Linked DNA regions of Homo sapiens: all the other regions are linked to region 3. Evidence: fine-mapped expression QTL. A gene starts in region 3. Each other region holds a variant in brackets. All regions are shown on one strand. Distances are between the middles of the regions. Region 1 overlaps RSBN1L (round spermatid basic protein 1 like). Region 2 overlaps PHTF2 (putative homeodomain transcription factor 2). Region 3 holds the start of TMEM60 (transmembrane protein 60).

Evidence for each region.
Region 1: its variant is fine-mapped to the expression of TMEM60 in whole blood (INTERVAL, PIP 0.94).
Region 2: its variant is fine-mapped to the expression of TMEM60 in whole blood (INTERVAL, PIP above 0.99).

What each region holds. Positions count from the first base shown.
Region 1 is chr7:77,716,592-77,727,042 of GRCh38, forward strand. The region is part of intron 1 of RSBN1L (round spermatid basic protein 1 like); the gene reads left to right. Among named protein-coding and RNA genes, the nearest start is that of RSBN1L, 25 kb to the left of the region's middle. The variant C/CT (reference allele first, on the strand shown) is at 6,377.
Region 2 is chr7:77,860,971-77,871,421 of GRCh38, forward strand. The region is part of intron 2 of PHTF2 (putative homeodomain transcription factor 2); the gene reads left to right. Among named protein-coding and RNA genes, the nearest start is that of PHTF2, 67 kb to the left of the region's middle. The variant C/CA (reference allele first, on the strand shown) is at 5,214.
Region 3 is chr7:77,792,157-77,802,607 of GRCh38, forward strand. It overlaps TMEM60 (transmembrane protein 60), which reads right to left and starts at 6,278. Exons shown (of 2, transcript NM_032936.4): 1 at 6,098-6,278; 2 at 1,572-2,267. The coding sequence starts at 2,217. The coding sequence ends at 1,816. PHTF2 (putative homeodomain transcription factor 2) reads left to right here and starts at 6,617. Exons shown (of 19, transcript NM_001395272.1): 1 at 6,617-6,815. RefSeq lists an enhancer at 6,038-6,147 and a silencer at 6,558-6,697.

The DNA of each region.
Region 1 (10,451 bases), 76 kb before region 3:
TTTGTACTTAAAAGCTGCATGTGTATCTTCATCTTTTTTTTTTTTTTTTTTTTTTTTTTAGACGGTGTCTTGCTCTGTCACCCAGGCTGGAGTGCAGTGGCTCAGTCTTGGCTCACTGCAGTCTCCGCCTCCTGTGTTCAAGCGATTGTCCTGCCTCAACCTCCCGAGTAGCTGGGATTACAGGCGTGCACCACCACGCCAGGCTATTTTTTGTATTTTTAGTAGAGACGGGGTTTCACCATGTTGACCAGGTGGTCTTGAACTCCTGACTTCAGGTGATCTGCTTGCCTTGGCCTCCCAAAGTGCTGAAATTACAGGCATGAGGCATGAGGCATGAGCCACTGTGCCTGGCCTATCTATTCTTACATTCTTTTTTTTTTTTCAAAGGAGACAGGGTCTTGCTCTGTTGCCCAGGCTGGAGTGCAGTGGCGTAATCATAGCTCATTGCAGTCTGGAACTGCTGGCCTTAAGCTATCTTCCCATCTTAGCCTCTTGAGTAGCTAGGACTACAGGTGAGCGACACCACTCCCAGCTGTTTTTTATTTTATTTTTTGTAGAGATAGTCTTGCCATGTTGCCTGGACTCAAGGAATCCTCTCTCCTTGACCTCCCAAAGTTGGGATTACAGGCGTCAGCCACTGTGCCTGGCCGTAGTCTTATATTATTTTATATCGTCTTAGAGATTTTTATTGGTATTTAATACAGATTGTAAGTTTTCTTCTAGTATTTTTATTTTTATGATGGGAGTTTTTCCTAGTATATTTTTGTGAGATTATTACTAGTATATAAAAAAGACTTTGGTTTTTCTACATATAATTGGTAATTGGATATATAATGTTATAACAGTGAGAAGCTATACAATTGTAATCAGAAACAGAATGAATTATAGTAAAATACTTTGTGGTACTTCAAGCATTGTTTTTGTCTTTGAAATCTGAGATTAGCAGAGATAAATATTTTTGGTTCTTAAATGCTGTGGCAAAGTGTTAAGAAAAATGGCAAAATCGATAAATACAATTTCTGCCTCCAAACAATGTAGCAGGATACTTATAATATATACTGCAGTAAGTTAAATACCATAAGTAGAAAGTTGTGGTGTGGAGTGAGGGCAGGCAGATACTAAGGCAGTTAAGAAAGGGACAAGGTCCCGGGTGTGGCTGCTCACACCTGTAATCTGAGCACTTTGGGAGGCTGAGGTGGGCGGATCACCTGAGGTCAGGAGTTCAAGACCAGCCTGGCCAACATGGTGAAACCCTGTCTCTACTAAAAAATATATAAATTAGCTGGGCGTGGTGCTGTGTGCCTGTAATCTCAGCTACTTGGGAGGCTGAGGCAGGAGAATCACTGGAACCTGGCAGGCGGAGGCTGCAGTGAGCCGAGATCGTGCTGCTGCACTCCAGTCGGGGCGACAGAGCGAGACTGTGTCTCAGAAAAGAAAGGGAGAAGAGATGTAGGAGAGGAGATATTTGAGAGAAACTTTGAAAGGGCAGTATGGTAGGATTTCAGCAAAGAGATAAAGGAGTTGTGGGGAGAGAGAACATTATATGAACTAATATTCATGGCAGCTAGATAGGAAAAGCGAGCTCTACAATGTCACAGAAGTTATGGGAGGAAATAATTTCAAGGCGTTTGATTGTGTTTATAGCTCTGACATTATATATTAAGCCTTTTTTCTTTTAGCCCTTCACTTCTTGATTTTAATATATCAGTGTATTTTGTTTTATGTTTTTTGAGACTGAGTCTCACTGTTGCCTAGGCTGGTAGGCACTGGTGCAATCACGGCTTCAACTTCTGGGCTCAGTTGATCCTCCCACCTCAGTCTCCTGAGTAACTGGGACTACAAGTGCACGACCACACCTGGCTAATTTTTTTGTATTTTTTATAGAGATGAGGTTTTATCATGTTTGCCAGGCTGGTCTCAAACTCCTGGGTTCAAGCAATCTGCCTGCCCCGGCCTCTCAAAGTGCTAGATTACAGGTGTGAGCCACCGCACCTGGCCCATCAGTGTATTTTGTAAGACAGTTTTCTACTTTAACATTTTTCTAGAGTCAGTGCATGTCTTGTATATACTTAAACAAAACAACTTTTTCATTATCTATAATAAGACTTTGTGAAGGCTGAATTATCTCTTAATGCATAACAAACTGCCCTAAAATTTTGTGGTTTGAAACAATAACCATTTTATTATATCAGATGATTTTGTGAATCACAAATTCTGGCATGATTGGCTGGGTGATTTCCTCTGCTTCACGCAGTGTTGACTGGAGTTGCTCATTGGTGTTGAGTTGGTGGCTGGTCTGGTATGGAAGGTCCAAGATGACTTTACTCACGTGCCTGTTGCTGTGTTATGTATGGCTAGATACTGAACTGAGTGAACCCTTCTCTTTCTCCAAGTTGTTTCAGGACCATTCCACATGGTCTGTTAATTAGGAAGTTGGATTTCTTACGTGGCAGCTCAGGACTCCAAGAGTCTTGACACCCAGCGACATAGGTGGAAACAGCAAGTCTTCTTATGACTTAGCTTTGGAAGTCTGAACCAATTTCTCACTGCACATACATTAGGGCACATAATGTATGTGTGTTTTGGAAAATTTCACTTGGAGCACATTCCAATTGAATTAAGATTGATAAAGCATCTGTAGGTGTGTATCTAATGATGTTAGCTAAATATACAACTTTTAAAAAATGTAGAACTTTAATTGGTTGTGTGAAAAAGTGTAACTAAGAGTATATAACAAGTACAACGAGAGTCTGGTTCCCATAGTTACATATGCCCACACATATTGTTATCATTAAGAACTATGTATATGATTTACCATTTGCATTACAGAGTATAATTTAAATTGTAATAAATAATGTAATTGTATAATGTGGACTTAGAGGTCTAAGAATGCCCCAGGTTGTATATATGTGAAACAATCACGTTTGATATAGTAGCTATAGACACACGATTCAGTGATTTAAAGTGATTTAATTCTGTAACCAGATACCACCTACAATATCTTAGTACTTCATATCTTGGTTTTATAATATGTTGAGAACAGACGAAATGCTTTTATTTCTGCTCTGGAGACCAATCTTTTCTGATAGTTTAGTGAGGAAAACCTGAGCTAAAATTTTTCACAGGCCACTTTATCATGTTATGCCTGGCATGGTTTTTATGTATATATGTATTTAAAAAAATTTTTTTTAGAGACAAGGTCTCACTCTGTTGCTCAGGTTGGAGTGCAGTGGTGTGATCATGGCTCACTGCAGCCTCAGACTCCTGGGCTCAAGTGATCCATCTGACTGAGCCTTCTGAGTAGCCAGTACTATAGGTGCGCACCACTGTGCCTGGCTAATTATTGTATTTTCCGTAGAGAAAGGGTCTCGCCATATTGTCCAGGCTGGCCTTGAACTCCTGGCCTCAAGCCATCCTCCCACCTTGTCCTCCAAAGTGCTGGGATTGCAGGTGTGAGCCACTGTTCCCAGCTGTATGTGTCCTTTTTTATTTTCCTCTTACTCTTTGTGTGTTCTTGTGACTATTGTTATTGTAGTATTTTTGTAACTCTTTGTTACTGGGTGCTTTTGTAATAAAATTCTGTTTATATTTAATAATAATAGCTACATTTGTCCAGTGCTTAAAATTAGGTATTGTGCATAGTGTTGGAAATAATGCATATGTTGCCTTGTTATAAAAATTGTAAAAGGCTGGGCGTGGTGGCTCGTGCCTATAATCTTAGCACTTTGGGAGGCCAAGGTGGGTGGATCACCTGAGGTTGGGAGTTCAAGACCAGACTGACCAACATGGAGAAACCCCGGGTCTACTAAAAATACAAAATTAGCTGGGCGTGGTGCTGCATGCCCGTAATCCCAGCTACTCGGGAGGCTGAGGCAGAGAATCGCTTGAACCCGGGAGGCAGAGGTTGCGGTGAGCTGAGATCGTGCCATTGCACTCCAGCCTGGGCAACAAGAGCGAAACTCCGTTAAAAAAAAAATTGCAGAAGACAAGTGTTATTATCTATACAGATGAGATTACTGAGGCACAACACGGTTAAGTAACTTGCTTCATGTCACTTGATCAGTTATTGGCAGAGCTAGAATTTGAGCTTAATATGTATAATTACAAAGCCTGAATTATTTCTATTATATCACAATACATTTGGGGTTTCTTTCTTTTTCATTTTCTTTTTCTTTTTTTTTTTTTTTTTTTTGAGACAGAGTCTCACTCTGTCACCCAGGCTCGAGTGCAGTGGTGTGATCCTGGCTCACTGCAGCATCAGCCTCCCAGGTTCTCATCCCTCAGCCTCCTGAGTAGCTGGAATTACAGGCGTGGGCGACCTTGCCCGGCTACATTTTGTATTTTTAGTAGAGATGGGGTTTCACCATTTTGGTCATATGACCTCAAGTGATCTGCCTGCCTCGGCATGCCAAAGTGCTGGGATTACAGCGGTGAGCCACCGTGCCCAGCCTACTGCTTTTTTTCTTATGTGGATTTAACACTTATTTATGGCCCGCTTTGTGCTTGGGTGGTGGTGGAAGAAAGGGAGATACAAAGAGGAGAACTTTCTGTTTCTTGCCTTGAGATAATTTTTAATTTAATTGGAGAGATAAATAGCTGCAATGTAAAAGACACTGCTCATTGTTGGTAATTTTGTTTTTTTTTTTTCTGTGTATTGCTTTTTTGTCTTCTATGATTGCCTTCAAATGCTTATCAATAGTAATTTCCTTCTTTTTACTTAAATCTTTTGCCTCCTGGAAACTTCATTCACATTGAGCATCACTTATATGCAAAGCACCATTCTAGGTTCTACAGAAGGTAGCAAAGAGCAAGATATGATAATTGCAAAGGAGCTTAGAAACCAGGAGGGCAGATTGAGCAGTTATACAAAAAATCAGAATTCAAATTATAGAAGAGGGAGGAGGAGGATATGATCATTTGTGATCATGGGCATCAAGGAGTGCTTAGTGGAAGAAGCTAAATTTCACCGTAATCTTACAGGATGTGTAGGATTTGGGCAGGAGGAATTGGGATGGGCAATCGCATTTTAGCTAAGGGATATATTAGTAAAAATATTGGAGTAAGACATTTGAGTAATGATGAATCAAGTAATCCGGAATCTTGTTATATATGTGGGTGAATAGTTGAAGAAAAGGCTAAAAGAAGGTGAGTCTTAACTGAAGATTCTTGAATGACATATTATGGGAGTTTTCTGTTTTTAGATAGGCAGAGGTAAGCTGAGTTGGTTTATTCATTCGTTTTAAGCAGAAGATAGTGACATGGTAAACTATACATTTAAGGAATCTTTTTTGGTCACTGTGCTTACTTGGTGGAAAGGAAAGAAACTATAGGTACGGAAACCCTTTCTTTTAAAAGCTAGTGAGAATACACTAGGTGGTGACTCTGGAAAGGGAAAAAAAGATGGAAATATTTTAACGAAGTATAAACTGAACTGGTCAAGTGATTTAGTGTTAGGGGAAAATTGAAGAAAGAAGTATTATTAGTGTTACTGAAAATTTTTTGTATTTGGATGTTGGATGAGGATGTGCCATTAACATAGAGAATTGGAAGGAGAACTTGAACTTTTTTATATTAGAAAGATGATATTTTGGTGTTAAATATTATGGAGATGAAGATGTGGAGTTTGGCAGAGGGGTTGGGTTGGGAGATTAATTTGGAGATTAGTTTGCCACAGGGTTATAGTTTACATCATGTGAGTGCATTTTTAGAGGCAATATAGAGAAGAGAGAGGAATGCCTAGGAGAGATCCTAGGTAAATGTGCAGGTTTGGATGGTGGGATTATGAGAATGAGGGAGGAGTCAGGTAGGATAGTACAGTTTCAGTGAAACTTAGGGAGAAATTTTGAGAAGGAATTGATACTGTTATGTTGCAGTGAGGTCCACGGAAAAAAGGGCTGAGAAGCCACTGGATTTTTTAGCTTTGATTAGCTGTGTTAGCGAGGGGCTGTGATAAATCACTTCTTTCCCATTTACTGTTTGTGAAGTCCTTTCTCTTCTTTTTACTGTATCCTTCATCTCCTTCAATTTTTATTTTAGTGTATGTAATTGTAATCATTTTGTAATGTAACTGCTTTTCCTTCTGCTTCAAATTCTTTACATTTCTCTTCTTCTGCCGCTGCTTGTTCTCTCATCTATTTCTAGCCATACATTATTCCTGGAAGGAATAATGTAAGAGAGGGAAGGTGGGGAATGTCATTGTTGTCGTTCAGTTCAGTTGATTTCATGGACTGCGTTATTATGGTGTGAATTATGGCTCATGGCTCATATTCAGGGCAGGCAAAACTGTGATGGTGTGAAGCTTGTTTGATGTTTGTGCAGCAACAATATATTGTGACTGAAAGCTGTAGTATGAAATTCTAACATTTCTTTCTCTCTT[C/CT]TTTTTTTTTTTTTTTTTGAGACAGAGTTTCGCTTTGTTACCCAGGCTGGAGTACAGTGGTGCAATCTCGGCTCACCACAACCTCCGCCTCCTGGTTCAATCGGTTCTTGTGTCTCAGCCTTCCGAGTAGCTGGGATTACAGGCATGCGCCACCTCGCCTGGCTAATTTTGTATTTTTAGTAGAGATGGGGTTTCACTATGTTGGCCAGGCTGGGCTCAAACTCCTGACCTCAAGTGATCCACGTGCCTTGGCCTCCCAAAGTGCTGGGATTACAGGTGTGAGCCACTGCGCCCGGCCAACATTTCTTAAGAACTTCCAGTGTGGATTTTTATGATGCTGTAATTTCTTAAAAAAATTAATGAACCTATATAAAGAATTTCCTATACATCAAAATCTGTGGTTGAGTAAAAGTATAGCTTCTTTTTCTTAAAAACTGTTAAGCCTAATAAATAATGTATGTGTGTATGCATATTCAGAATACATATATAATTTATTTTTTAATTCTAATTTTAATTTTTTGAGATAGGGTCTCACTCTTTGCCCAGACTGGAGTGCAGTGGCATGATCACAGCTCACTGCAGCCGTGACCTGCTGGGTTTAAGCGATCCTCCCACCTCACCCACCCAAGTAGCTGGGACTGCAGGCATGTACCACCATGCCCAGTTAATTTAAAAAGAATTTTTTTGGCTGGGCGTGGTGGCTCACACCTGTAATCCTAGCACTTTGGGAGGCCGAGGTGGGAGGATCACAAGGTTAGGAGTTCAAGACCAGCCTGGCCAGCATGGTGAAACCCAGTATCTACTAAAAATACAAAAATTAGCTGGACATGGTGGAGCATGCCTGTAATCCCAGCTACTCGGGTGGCCGAGGCAAGAGAACTGCTTTAACCTGGGAGGCGGAGGTTGCAGGGAGCTGAGATCACGCCACTGCACTCCAGCCTGGGACACAAGAGTGAAACTCTGTCTCAAAAAAAAAATTTTTTTTTTTTTAATAGGGACAGGATCTCTCTGTGTTGCCCAGGCTGGTCTTGAATTTCTGGGCTCAAGCTATCCTCCCACCTTGGCCTCCCAAAGTGCTAGGATTACAGGCATGAATGAGCCTTTGCACCAGCTTATAATTATTTCTAATTTTCTCCTTTTTTTCTCCTCTTGATTAACTATAGCATAACATCGAGATAATATATATCAAGTGAGGTAGAACAGCACTTGAACAGTTTTAATGGAGGGAGACCTTTGGAAACTTTTTTTAATGTGTTTATGTGAGTACATATTATGTTATATATTCAGTGTTTTACTTTGAATTTTTTTTTCTTGTATCTCCTTCTAATATACTGAGTGATTCTAAATCTTTAAAAAAGTATGTATCTGAACATAATTATTAATTCTTTCGGGAAGGAGAGTTAGGCTACCAACTTGATTGTACAAATAATACATAATATATGAATCCCTTTCTTTTTCTTTTTTCTTTTTTTTTTTTTTTGAGAGTCTCACTCTGTTGTCCAGGTGGGAGTACACTGGTGCGCTCTTGGTTCACTGCAACCTGTGCCTCCTGGGTTCAAGTGATTCTCCTGCCTCAGCCTCCTGAGTAGCTGGGATTACAGACGTGCATCACCATGCCCAGCTAATTTTTGTATTTTTAGTAGAGATGGGGTTTCACCCTGTTGGCCAGGCTGGTCTCGAACTCCCGACTTCAGGTGATCCACCTGCCTTGCCCTCACAAAGTGCTGGGATTACAGACATGGGCCACTGCGCCCGGCCATGAATCCCTTTCTATTGTAGAAGTTTCAAATAATTTAGGAAGTAAATGAAATAAAAACCAGAAGTTCCTTGTCTTTCTTCCCTAGGGGTAAGCCCCCTATTTTTTTTCTTTTTCTTTTTTGTTTTTTTTTTTTGAGACGGAGTTTCGCTTTTGTGGCCCAAGCCGGAGTGCAGTGGTGCAATCTCGGTTCACTGCAACCTCCGCCTCCCGGGTCCAGTCGGTTCTCCTGCCTCAGCCTCCCGAGTAGCTGGGATTATAGGCACACACCACCATGCCTGGCTAATTTTTTGTATTTTTAGTACAAACGGGGTTTCACCATGTTGGCCAGGCTGGTCTTGAACTCCTGACCTCCGGTGATCCACCCGCCTTGGCTTTCCAAAATGCTGGGATTACAGGCATGAGCCACTGCGCCCGGCCACAAATCCCTTTCTCTTGCAGAAGTTTCAAATAATTTAGGAAGTAAATGAAATAAAAACCAGAAGTTCTTTTTCTTTCTTCCCTAGGGATAAGCCCCCCACTTTTTTTTTTTTTTTTTTTTTGAGATGGAATTTTGCTCTTGTGGCCCAAGCTGGAGTGCAGTGGTGCGATCTCTGCTCACTGCAACCTCTGCCTCCTGGGTCCAATCGATTCTCCTGCCTCAGCCTCCCAGGTAGCTGGATTACAGGCATGCGCCACCATGCCCGGCTTATTTTGTATTTTTAGTATGAACGGGGTTTCACCATGTTTGCGAGGCTGGTCTCGAACTCCTGACCTCAGGTGATCCACCTGCCTCGGCCTCCCATAGTGCTGGGATTACAGGCATGAGCCATGGCGCCCGGCCAGGGGTAAGCCCTTTTAAGTGTTCTGTGCATTTACATATGTACATATGTAAACACACACTCACAGAAGAGATTATATCGTTTACTATTTTATTTTATTTTATTTTTTGAGATGGAGTTTCGCCCTTGTTGCTCAGGCTGGGTTCAAGCAGTTCTCCTGCCTCAGCCTCCCAGGTAGCTGGATTACAGGCATGCGCCACCATGCCCGGCTTATTTTGTATTTTTAGTAGAGACAGGGTTTCTCCATGTTGGTCAGGTTGGTCTGGAACTCCTGACCTCAGGTCATCCGCCTGCCTCCCAAAGTGCTGGGATTACAGGCAAGAGCCACTGCGCCTGGCTAAGATTATCTAGTTTATTTTTAAAAACCTAAATATACTATATATATGCCTTTTTCTGTAACCTGCTTTTTTTTTTAGTTAACAGTGTGTCTTGTAGCGCTTCTGTTATATATTGTTAAATTTATATACACATACATATACATGTGTATCTGTCTGTATTTCTAATTAAGTTTTGCCTTTATAAGTTTTTTAGTAAGCATTTCATTTCAGAGTAGTTTTAGATTTACAGAAAAGTTGCAAAGGTAGTACAGAATTCCCATACACCATTATTAACATCTTACATTTTTCTAGCACGTTTATCATAGTTAAGAAACAGTAGTGATGCATTATTATTAACTAAAGTCCATACTTTATTCAGAATTTCCTTAGTATTTTGTCTTATATCCTTTTTCTGTTCAAGGATCCCATCCAGGATACTGTATTACATTTAATCATCATGTCTCGTTAGATTCCTTTTGGCTGAGACAGTATCTCAGACTTCCATCGCTTTTAATGACCTTGATTGTTTGAGGTGTACCAGTTAGGTATTTTGTGGAACGTCTCCCAACTGGGATTTGTCTGATGTTGTCCTCATGATTAGACTGGAGTTTAGGGTTTTGGGGAGGAAGACAATAACTGTAAATTTTAAAAACAAAATTTAATTTAAAAATATCGAAAAATTTATAGTAAGAAGTGTCCCTAGCTTTCCCTACTGATTTCGTGTTCCTCAGCTCGTTTAGTATCCCATCTACTTTTTTTTGTTTTTGAGACGGAACGTTGCTGTGTCACCCAGGCTGGAGTGCAGTGGCGCAATCTAGGTTCACCGCAACTTCTGCCTCTCGGGTTCAAGCGATTCTCTTGTCTCAGCTTCCCTAGTAGCTGGGACTACAGGCGCGTGCCACCACACCCAGCTAATTTTTTTTTTTTTTTTTTTTTGAGGCAGAGTCTCGCTCTTGTTGCCCAGGCTGGAGTGCAGTGGTGCGATCTCGGCTCACTGCAACCTCCACATTCCTGGGTTCAAGTGATTCTCCCGCCTTGGCCTCCCAAAATGCTGGCATTACAGGTGTGAGTCACTGTGCCCGGCCTAATTTTTGTATTTGTAATAGGGATGGGGTTTCACCATGTTGGCCAGGATGGTCTCAATCTCTTGACCTCGTGATCCACCCGCCTTGGCCTCCCAA
Region 2 (10,451 bases), 69 kb after region 3:
TAGGATTACAGTCATGAGCCACCTTACCTGGCCTTAATTGTTCTCTTAAATTGGACATTTCTATATCAGTTAAAATGGAAAAACACCATTAGAAGTGGTCAGTTTTCCTTTGTATTTTTGAAAATTATGTACTTACATTTAATTGCTCTCTCCCTTATTCTTTAATTTCTTTTTTTATTTTTATTTATTTATTTTTATTGTTTGCTTTAATTTCTAACACAATTTTTTCCTTAGGGTGTGTCATTCTTTATCTGGGATCCTTTGAAGTACTTTGTTTTCATGGTAAAGAGGGGTGTTTTAGGAAGGAACAAAACAAATGATGCATTAAAAAGTGGATAGAATAGATAGCTATAAAGGCAGATATAGTTTCAGTTATATCTTACACTTAATTCTACATGGTAATTTTGAGGAATGCACTATCCTACGTGGTGAATTTTCTGGGTATTTTTTTTTAAATGATCAAATTTTCTTTTACTTTTGACTCTTTCCTTTAACACTGCAAATAGAGTAGAAATGACCATTTTCTAATATTTTCCTGATTTGTGGTGGTTATTGTCTATTATGACTTTGGTTATAATACATTGTGATAGATCTGTCCTTTATTGTGAGTTCTCAGTTTAGCCTTATCTTGATTTGTTGTTTAATCAGTTTGCAGAATTGTAGGTAAATAGGCCAGGCACAGTGGCTCATGCCTGTAATTCCAGCACTTTGGGAGGCCAAGGTGGGCAGATCACTTGAGGCCGGAAGTTTGAGAAGAGCCTGGCCAACATGGTGAAACCTCGTCTCTACTAAAAATACAAAAATTAGCCAGCTGTGGTGGTGCATGCCTGTAATCCCAGCACTTTGGGAGGCCATGGCAGGTGCATCACCTGAGGTTGAGAGTTCAAGGCCAGCCTGACCAACATGGAGAAACCCCGTCTCCACTAAAAATACAAAATTAGCTGGGTGTGGTAGCGCATGCCTGTAATCCCAGCTATTCAGGAGGCTGAGGCAGGAGAATCGCTTGAACCTGGAAAGCGGAGGTTGCAGTGAGCCAAGATCGTGCCATTGCACTCCAGCCTGGGCAACAAGAGCGAAACTCCATCTCAAAAAAAAAAAAAAGAAGGAAAAATAGAAAAAAATACCTTTCACTCTTCCCTAGCAGTACCTTTTTAGGCTTCTACACAGTAATGTTTATAGACTCCAAGGGGATCCATCTATAGTTCTCCTTAGTATAAAAGTACTGAGTTCATAAAAACATTATCAGTAGAAAATTCTTTAAGGTTTTTGAAATGTCTTTTTTACAGTGTTAAGGCACTATAATACATACATTTCTACATTTTTAACATTTATTTTATATTTGTTCTCTTTAGAAGTTAAGTGTTTCATAATAGAATGTTTTTGGTTTTTGTTTTGCAAATACCTTGGTACATCAAGACTAGGAATTTCTATATAGTATATAATTTATTTGAAATACTGCAGTCATTTGCTTATGACTTTTTTTGGATAAAAGGAATAGTTTTTCCGTTAAAAGGAAGCAATCATTGGCCTGTAGCGGTTGCCAGATACAGCACCTAAAAATTAAAGTAGTAGTTTACACAGGTATGAGGAGATCCAAGAAATGATGCTATTTGAATAGAGCTGAAGTTCTTTATTGAATAAAGCTTCTTATACCTGTGGGGTATTGGAAAGAAAAATATTTTATGACTTACTGGAAAACTAGCCTGGAATCTTTTTCATTTTTTGATGAATAGGTTTAAAACAGAGATGTTCATCAATGATATAATATTTGCCGGTTATATTCCAAGTGTCTTGCAGTCAGTTTATTTTTAACCATAGCAACAGACATGATGGTGAAATAAAGTAGTAGATTACTGTTGGCAGCCTAAAATTAGGCAAATGTACCAACTTTGAAAGGCCTGGGAGTGACTAAAACACTGTAGTTAACCTGCTGTATGTTTACAGTTCTACAAAGAATGACATAAATGCCATTTAACAGGTAAACTTAGAAGCTAAATTGCTCTTTGCCTAATGGACCATAGAGTTTATTCAAATAAAAGCTGTAGATTCAGCACCAAGGATTGATTCACAGAGAATAAAATGCTGAAGATATACAACCTAAAAGTTTCCCATTTGAACTTTTGCCCTGAATCAATATCCTTATTGGCATATATTTGCCTGGCCATTTTAAGTGAAGTCTTGCTTTAGTTTGCTTTCTGTTTTTGGTGTCTTTTTCTCTACCCCTGTGATGGATTCGAATTACAAAGAGTTCTGGTTTACCTAGTTTGTGGAGAAGGGGGATAGTGTAATCTCTAATGAAGTAGGATGGTATATAAAGAGCTAGTTAGTAAGGTAGCCTTATTAAAATGTACTTCTTTTACAGCTTTGGGGAATCAGAGGAATGACGTCTTATTTTTCCAATCTCAAAATGGTAGGCAGCAGGGTGTATTTCTAATTACTGCTGTTTTGTCCACTGTGACACTTTATTATATGGTTCATTTTTATTTACTGGTAGAAAACCAAGGAGTAAATTACTAGGTAGAACCTCCTTACATTGATTTCATATAAGGAAAATTCAGTACATTTAGTTTTACCTATAGAGATTGATTTTTAGGATTAAAGATTTTTTTTTTCTTCCCTGTCCACCTCACCTGGTCTCAGTGTAGTTCTAAAGCTAAAGTTTATTACACATGGATTATTAAAGACTTTTTTTTTTTTAACCAAGACTTTCTCTTTCCAAAAAATCATGTCCTGATAGGATTTACACGCATTTATGTTTAAATAACATTTATGATGTGCCTACTATGTATCAGGCACTGAGTTCCCTGTTTTGTTTTGTTTTTTTTTTTTTTTGGAAGATAGGTTCTTACTCTGTCGCCCAAGCTGGAGTGCAGTGGCACGATCATGGCTCACTGCAGCTTCAACATCCTGGGCTCCTACCTCAGCCTTCCAAGTAGCTGGGGACTACAGGAGTGAGCCACCATCCCCGCTTAGTTTTAAAAAAATTTTCTGTAGGGATGGAGTTTCTCCATGTTGCCCAGGCTGGGCTCAAACTCCTGAGCTCAAGTTATCCTCCAGCCTCTGCCTCCTAGAGTGTTGGGATTACAGGTGTGAACCACCTTACCCAGCCCCACGGAGTTCTTATCTTTAGGAAACTCTGCATCATGGGGGAGCCAAGATGTAAACAAGTAACTATTATGCTTTATGGTAAATGCTACAGTAGAATTACCTTGAAAGTGTTACAGGAACTCACATAAAGTTCCCTGTAAATTTTTTCCTCTAGTCACCATTCTGTTACTGCTTTTGTCTTCTAAATATTTCTCAAATCTGTTGTGATCTCCCTACCTTCATTACTCTTTCATTCTTGTGCCAGTTAAATATTTTTTCTCACATCCACCAGAGTGATTTATCTTAAACAAAAATTTGACCTTGTCACTTATCTTTTTAACACTCGTCAAAGCCTTTCTTTCATATGTGGTATAAACTCTTTGCAAGGCCTATAACGATTTTTCTGGTCTAATTCCAGTTAGCTTTGTAGCCTCATTGCCTACCCCTTTCAGCCTTCAACTTTTCTTACCTTCTAACACCATCCCTCCAAATAAAACTGTTTGAAGTCTTCCCATGCTATTTTTCACCTTAGTGTTTAGACTGCCCACTTATGCTTTTAATTTTTTTTTTTTTTAACTGAAGTTGCTCCTTAAAACTCAAAGCTGGCATCTTCCCCTCACGGATATCTTTCATAATCCCCTGAAAACTGGATTAGGTATCTCCTCCTGCTAGTGCTCCTATGGGAAAGTTGTGTGTGTTCTTTTTGTGGCAGTGGTATAGCGCTTTTTTTTTTTCTTGATTCTTTCTCTTTACAGTTTACAGAGTAATATTGTAGTTACCTAGCATCCTCCAAAGGTCACCACTGTGTTGCTTGTTTGTTTAATTATCATTATGAACTTATGGCTTTAAAGATATTTCATATGTTTCCACCTGTTGGAGTTATTGTCCATAATAATGTCTTTCCCATTGTCAGACAGATTGTTCTGTCTTAATAATAGGAGCTTATTTAGGTTGGCTTCTGAATCTTTTTGACATGACCCTAGTAGTATGATAGTATTCACTGAGGAAAAAAATTTGAAATGGGAGCAATTGTTTCTGCATGGAGACAGGGAAAGCTACAGAGAGATCTTGATCCTCTTTTACCATCCTAGATATAAACATTCTGAGATGTTCCATATAAGCTAAATTCATTCTGCTCCATTTAACAATAATTACCTGGGAATCTCCTCTTTTTTCTTTTTTTTTTTAGACAGAGTCTCGCTCTGTTGCCCAGGCTGGAGTGCAGTGGCACGATCTCAGCTCACTGCAACCTCTGCTTCCCGGGTTCAAGCGATTCTCCTGCCTCAGCCCCCTGAGTAGCTGGGACTACAGGCATGCGTCACCATGCCTGGCTAATTTTTGTATTTTTAGTAGAGACGGGGTTTCACCATGTTAGTCAGGCTTGGTCTCAAACTCCTGACCTCATGTTCCACCCAGCGCAGCCTCCTAAAGTGCTGGCATTATAGATGTGAGCCATGTCACCCAGCCAATCTCTTTTATAATATCAATTATTATTCTACTTCTGTATTACAGTGGTATTTTGTTTATTCTACTGCTTATTACAGCCTGACTTGATAATTAATCTCCCCTGCTAATCCATGAGAGTAAGAATCATTATCTTTATATCGCCATTATTTCAGGGTCTTACTGTATACTTGGTACTTGGTAAATGTTTACTGCTTTGATAACAGTGCTGTCAGGAGACAGTATTTATATTAAACTTCTAATTTATATAGTTTTTTATTCTTAAATTAAGTACCTTTGATGTGCCATGTATCAAGCCAGGCACTTATTTCAAGGGACTTGATTTGAGTTGTCAAATCTGTGAAATAGGCTCTTTATACTGATTATTACATTAAGTATTAGGCTGGGCTCGGTGGCTCATGCCTGTAATCCCAGTACTTTGGGAGGCGAAGGCGGGCAGATCTCTTGAGGTCAGGAGTTCAAGACCAGCCTGGCCAATATGGTGAAACCATGTCTCTACTAAAAATACAAAAATTAGTCAGGCATGGTGGTGCACACCTGTAGTCCCAGCTATTTGGGAGGCCGAGGCAGGAGAATCACTTGAACTTGGGAGGCAGAGGTTGCAGTGAGTCAAGATCACACCACCACACTCCTGCCTGGATGACAGAGCGAGACTACCTCTC[C/CA]AAAAAAAAAAAAAAAAAAAATTATTAAACGTAATAGTTTATTCTGTAGTAACATTTCCTGAAGTGTGCTCTACATGATGTTAATAAGTATTAGGAGAATAAAAGGATTTTGTAGTCAAATCAGTTTGGGAAATATTGAGTGAGACACAGGCAAACAAGTTATATGATTTCAGGATTTTCCAGTGCAAATAATGTGCAGTTGACTGTCTAAGAGGCAGACAGAGAAAATATCATTTCTCAATTTATTTGACTTAATTTTTTCCCCTGAGTATCTGTTGAACATACTTAGGAAAATACTGGCCTGTGGTTAACAAGTTACGTAAAAGAGTGTGGTGCAGTGGAAAGGGCATGGAATTGGAAGTCAGAAGCTGGGTTTTACCATCTGTAAAACCTGACGTCTCTTAAAGCCTCAATTGTCTCGTCAGTAAAAAAAAAAAGTTAATACTGGTCTGTACAGCATAAGATTGTTCTCTTTAATGGTCTCTTATTTGATTTCAAATGAATGAATAGCAATAATATGTTAGGTATTTTTAAAATAAGTAACCAAGTTATGTTAATATTTTTGGCATTTAAATTGCCTTAAAATATGACATAGCTTTTCTTGTTATAGTAAACTATTAGAAATATGTAAACAAGGATGGTGCTGTAGCCTTGATTTATATTTTGTACACATGATTTAGTCAGGGTTATGTTTTAGAATGATAAACCAGAGTATATGCTATGATGAGTAGTAAAAGAATGCAAATAGGCATATACATTCTTTCCTTGTCACATGCTGCAATATGAAGGAAAAGGAAGCATTAGGTAATAGCCAGATGACATAATGGTTAATTATTGAGCTTTTGCATGTCTGTTCCTGTTGTTTGCTCCATACATATTAGTACATTTAGTCCTTATAATTACCCTTTGATTAATAATACTAATTATTTTACATGTTGTTAAGGCTAAGTTGGACTTCTTGAAGAGTTTTGTGTATTTTTATTTGCTTTTTAAATAAGCCCTGACAGCTTGCCTGCTGGCAAGATAGCCCACAGAAGGTAATACAGGGAGAAGTATATGACAATGATTAGGGATTAAATGTAACCCTTCCCAGACATCTCTTAGTGATCAGAACCAAGGCAAGTGAACGTAGGGTCGTTTTTGTGGATGGATATTAATGAAATTACTGGTGGGTAAGAGCACAGCTATGGAGCCAGGTTGTCTGTGTTTGAATTCCTGTTTATTGCTACTATTTAACCTTGTACAGCCTAAGTCTTTATACTGTAAACATAGAGATAGCTGTAATACCTACTTAATAGTGCTGTGAGAATTAAATAAGTTAATACGTGGAAGGGGTATCAGCACTTGATAAATGCTGACTACTTATTATTGCTGTTATTGTAATATTGTGAACATTAACTGCCTCAACTGGCATTTGAGGAGTAAAAAGCAGAGACATTAGTATACTTCAGTAACTGTGGTTGGACTTTCTATCCAAGGTGGGGGAAAGGGCGCAGCTAAGGAGTTCTGGTGTATCATAGGAAAAAATTATCTAATAGTAGATAGCAGTTGACAAGAGTATGTGAGAGCTTTCATTTTTTTCTCCTGACATCATCTTAGATTGGGTGATAGACAGTGTAATAAAGTAAATACTTAATCTACAGCTTGATGCTGTAAAACATCTGTGCAGTTCTCCTTTACATACGATCTTTTGTTTTAGTAGATTGATGAATCCCTGTTTAAGGAATTTACAAAGTTGGCAGAACTTTAAAGCAAGTTGTATTCTAGGGGGCAAATCATGCCCAGTACCTTTTATAAAGTAGTTAATACAGATGAGAGGATATCATAAATATACCCATTAATGTTAAGAAACATTTCCTTTTTTCCCCCCATTCTATATAAAGTACCTTGGTGGAAACTTCCCAGTCTCCTTGGATGGCATTTAGCCTTTTATATGTGAAAGAAGTAATAAAATTGGATCTTTTGTTTTTTTTTTTGAGACAGGGTCTCACTTTGTTGCCAGGCTAGAGTAGTATCCTGCACTATCATAGCTCAATGCAGCCTCCAACTCCTGAGCTCAAGCAGTCTTCCTGCCTTAGCCTCCCAAGTAGCTGGAGCTACAGGCATGCACCACCTCGCAAGTGGCTAATTAAAAAAAAATTTTTTTTTTTTTTTTTTTTTTTTTTTTGCAGAACAGAGTCTTGCTTTGTTGCCCAGGCTGGTCTTGAACTCCCGGCTTCAAGCAATCCTCCTACCTCAGCCTTCCAGAGTGCTGGGACTACAGGCATGTGCCAACTCGCCCAGCCAAAATTGAACTTTTTATTACAATCATGAATACAAAGAAAAAGTGAAAGCTATTCTTCATATTCTGATTAATTAAAAACAAATTTCAGTAAGTCAAAGAATGGATATACCTGAAATGGGTAGCACATTTACTTAATTCTCATCTAAACAAGTAATTTGAAACGGTTTCTGCTACTAAGAATAGCAATTTCCACAAATTGCTATTATTTTGAGAAAAGACAAATCAGATTTATCCTAGGAAGGTAGCATTAGATAATGGAAAGCCTATGGGCTTTTATGCTTGCAGATGGAATCCAACTTCTGTGTTTTAAAAACTATCTGGCCTTGGGCTAACATCTCTGAGACTCAGTTTCCTCACGTTTAAAAGGGGAATGATAATGTTGACTTTTAAATGATTTTTGAGAAAGTTCTAGCACAGTATCTGAGAAATTTTAAAATAAATATTCCCTTTCATTTTGGCTTGAACAACTTGAATTTGTACCACACATAAATATAGATCCTATTCGTACTTTATTAATCTTAGTGACTTAAAAATCAAGCAGGAAAAAGCAAAAAAACAAAAAAGATCTTTGGAATAGAACATCCTGTCTTTCAGTCTGGTTCTGTCATTGGTTCTCTTTTGACTTTGAGCAAGTTATTGAAGGTCTTTACATCTGTTTCATTTTTTCAGTTTTTAAATTTTTAATTGATACGTAATTAATTATACATCTTATGGGATACATGTAATATTTTGATACATACAATGGGTAATGATTAGATCAGGGTAATTAGGATATCCATTACCTCAAACATTTATCATTTCTTTGTGTTGGGAACATTTTAAAACTACTCTTCCAGCTATATTGAAATATATAATAAATTATTGTTACCCTCCTGTGCTATCAAACACTAGAACTTAATTCTTTCTATGTGTGTTTTGCACCCATTAACCAAACTTTCTTTATCCTCCTCACTTCCCAGTCTCCTGTATTACTCTCTACCTCCATGAGATCAACTTTTATAGCTCCCATATATGAGAACATAGCAATATTTGTCTTTCTATGACTGGCTTATTTCATTTAACATAATGACCTTCAGTTCCATCCACGTTGCTGCAAATGGCAGGACTTCCTTCTTTTATATTGCTAGATCATATGGTAGTTCAATTTTTAGTTTTTTAAGGAACCTTCATACTGTTTACCATGGTGGCTGTACTAATTTACATTCTTACCAACAGTGTATTAGCATTCCTCTTTCTCTAGATCTCACCAGCATATGTTATTTTTTGTCTTTTCAATAGTAGCCATTTTAACTAGAGTGAGATGATATCTCATTGTGGTTTTGATTTGTATTTCCCCGATGATTAGTGATGTTGAGTTTTTTTGTTGTTGCTGTTTTTGTTTTGATTTTTTAACATACCTGTTGGCCACTTGGTTTGTCTTCTTTTGAGAAATATCTATGGCGATCTTTTACCCATATATTTGAATTGGATTATTTGTTTTTTTGCTGTTGAGTTGTTTGAGTTCCTTATATATTCTGGTTATTAATCCTTTGTTGGATAGTTTGTAAATATTTTCTCCCATTCTGCAGGTTGTCTCTTCACTCTGTTGTTTTCTTTGCTGTGCAGAAGCTTTTTAGTTTCATGTAATTCCATTTGTCTATTTTTGCTTTTGTTGCCTGTGCTTTTGGGGTCCTACCCCAAAATTCTTTGCCTAGATCAGTGTCCTGAAGTGTTTCTCCAATGTTTTCTTCTAGTAGTTTTATAGTGTTAGGTATTACTTTTAAATCTTTAATCCATTTTGTTTTTTTTTTTTTTGGTATGTTGTATTAGGGTTCTCTAGAGGGACAGAACTAATGGAAAAAAATTATATATATGAGTTTATTAAGTATTAACTCACACTATCACAAGGTCTCACAATAGGCCATCTGCAGGCTGAGGAGCAAGGAGAGCCAATCCGAGTTCCAAAACTGAAGAACTTGGAATCCGCTGTTCAAGGGCAGGAAGCATCCAGCACAGGAGAAAGATATAGGCTGGGAGGCTAGGCCAGGCCAGTCTCTCTTTTCACATTTTTCTGCCTGCTTGTATGCTAGCCACACTGGCAGCTGATTAGCTTGTGCCCACCTAGATTAAGGGTGGGTCTGCTTTTCCCAGCCCACTGACTCAAATGTTTATCTCCTTTGGCAACACCCTCACAGACACACCCAGGATCAAAACTTTGTATCCTTCAGTCCAGTCAAGTTTGCACTCAGTATTAAGCATCACAAGTCCACCCCTTGTCAACCTGAACCCATACACATCTCCTGAGATCATATATAATCTTCAAATAAAGACAATAATAAGCCTAACATAACACAGCTATCCTTTGTACAACCAGAAATGCACCAATCCCCATTCCAAATACTATTACATAAAGTTAACAATACTTAAATGCTGATGTGAAGTCAATAAATCTTTATATCACATGATAAAGGAGAAAGGAAATAAAAATGAAGATATTTTCTTAGTATAAGTGTATACATGCACAAACATTTTTAACAAAAGAAGGAGGAAACACTCATGACAGTTACAGTCCTTGTTTCTGCAGCTGATCGTGTGGTCGTAGCTGGTATTGATGACTACCTTCTTCTACTACCCATTCTGTATTCCCTTGGCCTTCAGCAAGCACCTCAGCAAGTCATGGTGTTTTCTCTGGTGGAGTGACCCAAACCTTCATTCCTGAATGGTCTCGGGGTCATTTGTAGTCCTGCCTGAATTGGGCTGTTGTAGTTTCCCATTGACCTTAATCACACGGCATGGTGATATTAAGAGACGCCTTAATGGATCTTGTGTATTCCATGAATACTCTTCCTTACCTCCGTTGTGGAGTAGTAGACTGATTTCATCTTGATAGTCCAGGCCAATCACTGTAACTCCCTTCTTAGCCTGTTGACTTAAAGGTAGGGGGAGCCCAAAGTGTCCAGGTGGCAATCTTAACT
Region 3 (10,451 bases):
CGATAGATCCCATAAACCAAAGTATGCATCTCTCAATTGAGTTAGAGGTATCTGATCAAGCCTGGAACATTCCGTTCCCAGTACTAACTGTTCTCAATCCTATTTTTACATACTGAAAATCCTAATTATTGTCAATTATAAGATGAAAACTTTGCAGTTGATTAGTTTTTATTTATTTAGCCTAGCTCTCTAGTTTCAAATGCCTAATGAGTTAAGCTGTATTAATCTGTTGTATTGTGAAACTTATGTTATCTGTCATTACAAGGGAGAACTAGACCTTCTGTATCAGTAGCCAGAAATCACTTTTTTGTTTGATTTTTTTAAAACGGAGAAAAAATCACTTGAGGTTTCTCTTAAAGCTAAAAGTGAGGGTTGCATAGGGTAAGAACAATCATCGTGCTTCAGGGTTATAAGACACTTCAACCTCTTTGGAATTTTTATAAGTACTGTCACCTCTGCTTCATTGGAATTGATTAGTACCTTGGGAGGGTGATAATATGCTTTCTCAATTCAAGACACTTCTAATTGTGAGGGGGCACTAATTCCTTGAGACCCCAGGACAATAGGTATATAAACTGGGCCTGTCCTGACAGAATCAGGATTATAGGGTCTCCCTAACTTTAGGAAGTGGCAGGCTTCTGCTGTTTGTTTTTGTTTTTGTTTTTTTTTTTTTTGAGATGGAGTCTCACTCTTTTGCCAGGCTGGGGTGCAGTGGTGTGATCTCAGCTCATTGCAACCTCCGCCTCTGGGGTTCAAGCGATTCTCCTGCCTCAGCCTCCTGAGTAGCTGGGACTACAGGCGCCCACCACCATACCCAGCTAATTCTTGTATTTTTAGTAGAGATGGGGTTTCACCATGTTGGCCAGGATGGTCTTGATCTTTTGACCTTGTGATCTGCCCGCCTTGGCCTCCCAAAGTGCTGGGATTACAGGCGTGAGCCAGTGCGCCTGGCTTTTCTGCTCTGTTTTAACATGCCACCTCTAAATTATTTGTCCCAACCAGAAGGTAGAGGTAATAGTGAATTTAGCCTAGATAAAAATCTGTCAAACTCAGATTCTTTCTAAATGTAAATACGAAGTGGCATCCCTGTTTCAGGTTTTTTTTCCTTCATAATTTAGAAACACAAATGGCCATTTACTTTGGTCATAATACAGCCATGGTATATTAAACTTCTATTAAAAAATGTAGGTTTTGTTTTGTTTTTGAGACGGAGTCTAGTCCTATTGCCCAGGCTGGAGTGCAGTGGTGTGATTTTGGCTCACTGCAACCTCCACCTCCCGGGTTCAAGTGATTCTCCTGTCTCAGCCTCTCAAGTAGCTGGGATTACAGGCGCCCGCTACCATGCCTGGCTAATTTTTGTACTTTTAGTAGAGACAGGGTTTCACCATGTTGGCCAGGCTGGTCCTGAACTCCTGACCTCAAGTGATCCACCCGCCTCAGCCTCCCAAAGTGCTGGGATAACAGGTGTGAGCCACCTCGCCTGGCCCAAACATGTAGGTTAAAGGTTTTATATTTAGTTACTTTAGATATTGACCACATACAACAGATTATTCAAGAGTCATGTAGAAAAATGAGGTCCAAAACAAACTTTATTTACATAGAGATAATAAGGATCTCAATAACTCAAATGCTGAATAATTAAGCTGTAGGTTGACTAGAAGTCCGTGATTCACCAATCCTGTTTTATGGAAGTAGTATAAAACTACATTTGGTATTTTCCCTCAGTTCTCTGGTATTCTTGAAGCTTGACAGATTCAGAACACTTTAATGGTAACTTGTTGAACAGCAATAGAAAGGAGATGATGTACTTAGAAGTCAGTCTCTCACAAAAAAGACATTATATCCGAGTTCTGTTAAAGCCCCAGCCAGCAAGGCCCATAAAGGAATGAAGACATAGGATAGATTCATGGTAGTAAACTGTTCCAGTTTAGCACAGAGTGCGAGGCAGAAGGCTAATTTAAGTAACATTGCAATGAGGTACCAGGCTTTTTTTTTAATATTGTGTGATCCATGTCGAGGGTCAAAGCCAGACTTACACCGCCCAGCCATTTTCACAATCAGCAGGACAAGAAGGATAGTATCAAATATCCAGACTGGAATGAATATGAGGAACCAGTTCCAAGGTGCTTTCTCATCCAGTTTCAACACCAACATGATCAAGAAGAGTAGTGTGAAAAGCCAGGTGAGTAGTACTCTCTGAGCCAAGGACATTCTCATTTAAACAGTTTAAAGAGGCTGTTGCAGGATCGGAAAAAAGGAAATATACCCTAAGAGAAGGAGAAAAAGTCAAGATTGTTTTGATACCAGAAAAAAAGTATCACTTCCATTCCTAATGAACAAAACTGGTTCTTTCCCAACTGACTTCCTAATTTTGAAAACATTCTACTATTCTTCCTTTCAAATCCTCTAAAACTTAGTGATCATTGACATTATATCCACCATTCCTTACAGCCCATGACAAAATACAATTTTTATTATATCTACTGTATAAGCTCTATTCAAAATGTCAGGTGATTCCTTTTCAGTGCTATCACTCGAGTCCAGGCACTTACAACTTTATTCCTGCACCTCAAAGATGTTCTTAATCTTCCTATACATTTGCAAATCTAATTTTTAATTCAATTTCAAGGGGTACAAAGAAAAAAGCATTCAAAGTAGTGAAAAAGTGAAAGGTGGGTATCAAGCTGAGAAGAGAGAGAGTTTTAAAAGAAGGGAATGGGAAGGGTGCGTGGCTCATGCCAGTAATCCCAGTATTTGGGGAGGAGAAGGCAGGCATATCATTTGAGCCCAAGAGCTCCAGACCAGCCAGGGCAAGAGTGAAACCCTGCCTCTACAAAAAATAAAAAAATTGGCAAGGCGTGGTGGTATGCACCTTGTAGTCGCAGCTACTGAGAGGCTAAAGTGGGAGGATTGCTTGAGTCCAGGAGGTCGAGGCCGCAGTGAGTGCCCCGTGAGATCATGCCACTACACTCCAGCCTGGGCAAAAGAGTGAGATGCTGTCTCAATCAGTCAATCCATCAATAAAAGGAGGGAATGGTTAATAAAAATCACAAGAATATAAAGTAGAATTAATATTTTAGTGGCTGGGTGCAGTGGCTCACACCCACAGTCCCAACACTTTGGGACTCTAAGGCAGGTGCATCTCTTGAGCCCAGGAGTTCAAGACTAGTCTGGGCAACATGGCGAAACCCCGTCTCTACTAAAAATACAAAAAATTTAGGTGCAGTAGCACGTGCCTGTATTCCCTGCTACTCGCGAGGCTGAAGTGGGAGAATCACCTGAACCCGGGAAGTTGAGGCTGCAGTGAGCCGTTGCACACTGCACTCCAACCTGGGCGATGGGAGTGAGACCACTGTCTAAAAAAAAAAGATTGTAAAGAGGTTGTTGGGCTATATAATATAAAAGGCACTGATAACACTGGATTTTCATATAATTTGAAACATATTCTTAAATTCTCACTTATTTTCTCATAAAAATTCTTACAAATATCTTTCTTGGTATAATAGTTTTTTTCCTTTTAACAATAGTCTCACTGATTGGTGGTGTATATATGTATTTTTTTAAGCTACTTGTTATCCATTCAATAATCAGGACCACCTAATAAACTTTTGATGTTTTGTGATTATTAGATGCTAAATTTTGGGGGCTATTTCTTATATCACTATTCTGCCTCATTGATCTATATGTTTCTCTTTTGCACTAATACTATATGACTTAGTGTTGCTCTAGGAATGTATTAATATCTGGAAGGCCTAGTATCTACTCGTTGTTCTCTTTTCTAGAATTTTTTTTTTTTTTGAGACGGAGTCTCACTCTTGTCACTCAGGTTGGAGTGCAGTGGCACGATCTCAGGTCACTGCAGCCTCTGCCTCTCGGGTTCAAGTGATCCTCCCACTTAAGTTTCCCAAGTAGCTGGGATTACAAGTGTGCGCCACCACGCCCAGCTAGTTTTTGTATTTTTAGTAGAGATGGGGTTTCACCATGTTGGCCAGGCTGATCTCGAACTCCTGACCTCAAGTGATCCACCCACCTCAGCCTCCCAAAGTGTTGGGATTACAGGTTTGAGCCACCACGCCGGCCTCTTTTCTAGAATATTTTCTATTTTGCCCTTACAGTTTTTCAATGCTAAATTTGCTGATTCTTGAAAACCTAGAATTTTGATTATGAATGCATAAAACTTAGCTTGGGATAGCATTTATTATATTTAATCTTCACATATAGGTTTATGATATGTTCCTCTACTTAAGTTTTTTATACCAACCTTTATGGCCACTTGGAAAAAGGATAAGTAGAATGGGAAATCAGAAGCCAGACTGCATGCAGCTGGGTAAGGAGTTAACAGAAGACCAAGAAATGGAAACAATTGAGAACATTTTATTCCTTTGAGGCATTTGGAGAAGAGAAAAATGAAAGATAGGGTATATGAAACTGAAAGAAGAAATTTTCAGGAAAGGAAGAATTTATGACTATAAACAGAAATAAGCCAATGGGGAATGACACTGAAGATGAGAGAGGATACTTGATGGAAAGAGAAAAAGATCAGAAGGTGCTAGGGATAGGAACAAAAGCATGCGTGGTAGGAGGAAAGATGCAGGAAGATAACAGGGAAAAGGTGAAGGAACTGGCTAATTGAGCCAAATACCCTAGATTAGCGTGCTCAATTATATTTTAGAACTAACTTTGATGTACTGTGCAACATCTCTACTACTTTAAATAGTGGGTGGCTATCACAGTGCAAGAGGACACATCTGTTCTATTTCAACAGTTAAGTATTAGTCTCCTAACTCACCTCTTTTCCCTTATACCCATCTAGTGGCACTTAAACTTGTTTACTTAATTGGCAAAGGCTTCATACTGCAGTAATTTTGCTTCTAAGGAGGCATTTTTCTGTGTTGGTTTCCTTTCCCGGCCAGAGGCTGCCATAGAGTGGGATGTGGGACTGAATTTGGAAGCAGGGTTGGAGGGGTGTGTGTTGATTAATAACCATGGATGGATTTCATCCCGTAAATTGCACAATCCCCACCTCCAATCTATCAGGCCGTTTTTGTGAACCTCTGAAAAACGGTTTATGATTATACACTTGCTTAAACCTAACTGTTCCATCTGCTATCGGATAAGACAAGCTTCATTTTTTTCTTACATTTGGCTGTACTTACCACAGGTGCTTTAGGGCTGGAGGTGAAAGGATGCAAGTAACAATCTTATTGTGCCTACAAGATTTATAATGTGGGATGCAACAAAATTCTGTTATGTTCTTGCACGGAAATACCCTCAATGGGGAAGCACTGCTGATACTTAAATGACGATTGAAGGATTGTACGCCTGTATGCTGAGCTACAACGATGACATACGATCCCAGTTTTACATTTACGTCTTCATCAATTTGAGCAGTCGTTATGTTTCCTACTATTCTCTCCACAAGAAAGGGGGAGGTGCGTACTCCAAAAATGTGCTCAACTAAAATGTTTCCCATTTAAGGTGGTTATTTCTGGCACTAGGAAGACAGTTAAATATTTGTTAATGATTCCTTACTCATTTTTAAAACCTTCGGAGTTACCCCTGTATGGACATATATAGAGCCCCACCCACATAGCCCACGGCTGGGTATCAGCCCCCATTTCCCTTCTCTCGCCACTGCCAGTAGTCTACCAAGTGAACCTGCCTCATCCCAAAGATAATTTTGCTTCATGAGCCCACATATTTATTCTTCTTCATAATGAGTCGCTTTTGAAAAGCCCGTGCAGCAACAGCCTTGGCCAAAGGAACAGCGTTCTGCTTACAACTTAGCTCATCTGGGGGCCTATTTGCCCCTGGAACTTCAGGACGCTCCTAAACTATACTTGCCCTTCTGCAAACACCGACAGTCGGCTCGCGGCGCCCCACCGGGACGCTCCCCTTTCATGGGCTGTAAGCCCAGCACATGCTGGAGTTTAACACGGTTCCTGCTGGATGCGCACAGAAGCCCTGGAGCCAAGCAGGCGTGTGCGCGTTTGGGGCTGGCTGTGTGATGGGTTGAGGGTCGGCCGCACAGCCCACGGAAGCATCAGGAGACCAGCGCCGGCGTACGGTGCGGGCTAGGGCAGAGCCCCAGACTCACCTGGCAGCGCTGCCGGCCGGAAAGCGGAGAGGGACGCGAAGATCAGCAAATTCGCCAGTTTGGATCCTTGTCCTTTTCCGCCCTTTTCCCCCCATTAAATCCAGAACCCGTCACATGATAATTAAGAAAAAACTTCAGTTCCGCCTCCTCAAACGACTGCGGTAGAGGATCTCTCAGTTCTACCTCAGTGCCGCGCCCACATCCGGGGCTGGTTCTCACCGCCCCTGAGCCTACCCTATAGGTAGAGAGGACGCCAATCTGGATTCAGAGGTCCCTTTTCCGCGGTAATTGGACCATTTGTCCGCCAGTGCAAACCAACCGACCTTTCCTTACTTTCGGGTTCGACAGAAAGGCGGCAATAAAAAGACCCATTGGTCCCGCCTCTCTACTGTCACGGGTTAGTAGGGAAGTCAGTCCAAGATCAGCCTGGAGTTTCCGTGCTCCCATTGGGCCCACAGATGTTAATCAGAGCAGCCGGCGCTCAGCTCCGCCCTCTCGGGACGCCCCGCCCCTCCTCCCATCCTCCCTGCCCGCGCGCAGTGACTGCAGGCTCCGGCGCAAAATCCTGCGGGAGAGGGGGTGGGGCAACCCTCTGGAGGCAGCGCGCCCGCGGGCAGCCTCGTTGTGGCTCCTTGGGCTCTGTTGGCGGCGGCGCTAGCTTCGGAGTCTCCCGCGCGCACCTCAGCCGCCTCCTAGCGGCGCGGCGCTCGCTCCTACGGTAAGAGCGGCATCACCTCCGCGCTCGGGTGGGCAGTGTGGAGGTCGTCGAGTTCTGACAGAATTTCGAGGATGGATCGGGACGAGGGAGGAGAGCGGTCGTCGGGATGGAGGTGGGGGCTCCGGGGCCAACGCGTCGCCCTCCGTCGCCGGCGACTTTCCCGGCAGTCTCCCGTACCTGAGGGCCGGGGTCAGCCGCGACCCCTTCTCATCAGTCGGCCGGTGGCGGAGGCTCAGCCGCCTTCCTCCCGAGCTCGCGCGGTCCTCAAGTCTTGATGGTGACGGGCCGAAGCCCAGCGCGCCACCCGCCCCTCGGGCCCCGCTTCCAGGCCCCTGTCCTTTGCTTCCTTCCCTTGGCGCTGTGCTGAGGGGTCGTCGGGTCCTGGAAGGGCGTTCAGGGGTCTCGGGTGGCTAGCCCGGCTGGCGGGGAGATGTCAGCTAGCGGCCGGAGGAGCGGGCTCGGGAGGGGGCGGCGGCTCGCGCGCTGGAGGAGGTGGAAGGAGGGTCGCTGCCCTGCCCCCTCTGAGCAGGCGGCAGTCGAGTTTTCTGATCCCAACACGGCGGAGTGGGTGCTTAAGGCATGGGCCTTAAGGGATAGTTCCCGTCTGGAAACAATACCGTGCTCCATCAGCATGCTTCAGCTTTTCTTATTTTTATCTGCCCAGTGTTGACAGCCAGCATTCTGGTATTGTCCTTCGAGTCATGGCTTTCTAACTCAGCACCTCCTTGTGTAACTTCAGGGATCATTCTGTCACTAATCTGTCACCCTTCTTATTTTTAGCGTGGCGAAAACAAGGAACTGCCTTATACTAACCTGGGCAGTGCAGAATCTGGAACAATTTATTAATCTCAGTGTGTACTTTACATGCCAAGTAATTTTGAAATTCATGGTGAATATTAAATATTTTGTAGTTTTCGGTTGCTTTCTTTGTTAATAGTATATCCTCCTTGCTTTGAGACTACTTTTCAGGTGTGATACTTTAATCTTAAGGTTTTTGGTTAGCTTTTGCCATTTTTAAACGTTTCTTTCATTTTTTTTTTCTCCAAGACTTTGGCAAGAGACTTAGTATTTGATCTTGTTTTCAGGTATTTTTGTAAAGTTTATTTTCTTTCAAACTGGGCTTTTTTCACCATATTTTTAATATTGGAAGGGGAATTCTGAAAGTCTGGAAACTGCACACTTTAGCCTAAAGAGTCACAAAACAGTATAACAATTTGAAATCCTAACTTGGATATGGTGTATGGACTGCAAATTTTAAGAGAAGGAAATGGATATGCGTTATCAGTTGTAGTGGCTCCACCTCCATAACGTAGAGGAGAGGAATCTGGAGGTCTGCGGAGAATGAGCCATGTCTGGGGCCAGAAACAGTGGTTCCAGGAAATATTTTTGCCCCAGAAATAGCCTGCCTCCCACACAGACTGGCTGTCTGAATGCATCTGATAGTTTTAAGTTAGGTGTTAGTGAGGTGGAGAGTTTTCGTGTTCCAATTTTGACCACTTTCTGGTGGAGCATGAAAATGTGGTGAGTAAACAAGTATAGTATACAATGGGGGCACTCTTGCATAGATAGTCAAGCCTCCAAGAGTAAACTTTTTTTGAGCCCAAACTGGCACTGGACAGTTGGCCCTAAAAATGAAGAAGGTGGCCCACCCAATTTTTAAACCATGAACTTTTTTTGGCTGGTCCATTTAATGCAAAATTGCAAGGAATATGTAATGAAAAAAACCTTCACTAAACTGAAGAGAATTTAGGGTGTCATGTGGATAAAATGAAACTCGAAAATAGTTGGACTACTTGTATATTATTTAATCATTTTAGTCCTGTGAGATGGGTACTGATTACTGTCATTTTATAGATGAGCAAACCAAGACTTAGTTTAACTAATTTGTTCAAGATTTCTTCACAAATGAGTCAGTAGAGGTGAGATTCACACCTAAGCAGTCTGATTCCAAAGCCTACATTCCAAGCCATTATACTTTATTACCACAATAAAATTGGCTTCTTGGAGACTTTATAGTAGGAGACTACTCAGTGGAAAATAACACTGCAAAACCGTAAATTGAATCCACTATTGTACACAGTAACACTTTGAGATCATTGTATAATAGGCACTGTTGGATTTTGCTGAAGATAAAGGGATGGAGTCACCTTCTCTGTGTTTGAGGAGCATTCATTTGATGGGAGAAATAGATATTTGAACAAATGACGATAATACAATATATACAGATTGAGCATCTGTAAACTGAAAATCTGAAATGCTCTAAAATCTGGAACCTTTTGAGTGCCAAGATGATGCCACAAGACACTTGACTTCATGTGACAGGTTACAGTCAAGCTGGGTGCGGTGGCTCACGCCCGTAATCCCAGCACTTTGGGAGGCCAAGGCGGGTGGATCACCTGAGGTCAGGAGTTCAAGACCAGCCTGACCAATATGAAACCCCGTCTCTACTAAAAATACAAAAAAAATTAGCCGGGCGTGGTGGTATGCACCTGTAGTCCCAGCTACTCGGGAGGCTGATACAGGAGAATCGCTTGAACCCAGGAGGTGGAGGTTGCAGTGAGCCGAGATCGCACCACTGCACTTGGCCTGGGTGACAGAGCAAGACACCGTCTCAAAAACAAAAACAAAACAAAACAAAAAAACAGTCAAAACTTAGCTTCATGCACAGAATTATTTTAAAATGTTATATAAAATTACCTTTGGGCTATTTGTATAAGGTGTAAATGAAACATAAATGAATTTTGTGTTTAGACTTGAGTCCCATCTCTAAGATATCTCTTTATGTATATGCAAATATTACAAAATCCAAAATCCAAAATGCTTGTGGTCCCAATAATTCTTGAGACAAGAATTCAGTTAAAGTATAGACAGTCTGGATTTGAATTCCTATCAGGCTTTGTGACTTTGAACATAACACCAAACCTCTTTTAGCATCAGTTTCCTTATCTGTTTAATGGAAAGGGCAATACTTCAAAGAAGACATTAAGCCTTAAATAAAATATATAAAGTACGGGCACATAGAAAGCAGTGAATACAAAAGAAACAATAAATAATTTTAAGAGAGAACTAGTTGGGTTTCAGGGGAGCTACCACTGAAGCCTTAAAGGTCTGAAGGTGGTGTTTGTAGGTGGAGAAAGAGGGCATTCCATGCAGAACAGGAAGAGGCAGAGTCTCAGAACAGAAATATGGATTGTTTAGGGAATGGTAAGTAATTGTAGCTTTGTATAAAATGTATGTGTGAAGGCCAGCTTTAAATGATAATGGTATGTAAATGTGGTTGGGCAAAGTGAGTACTACCCAATTTTGATAATTGGAAATTGCATACTTAGATACTAAAATTATAGGAAAACCTCAGCAGTTTGTCCATTATTACATGTTTATTTAATATTCACCTTCCAATACTTACTTTCCCAGTTCAAATTAAGACTCAAAGAAGAATTCCAAAATGATGGTTGCCATCCCTTAACCCCTTTACCTAGCCTGTAGCCACATGGAGTCATTATTGTGAACTCCCCTTTGCATATATTTTGACTGTCTTTTCTTAATCCCTACTTGATACATGATAGTGGGACAGAGTTTTTTTATTTTGAGACAGGGTCTCATTCTGTCTTCCAGGTTGGAGTACAGTAGTGTAAT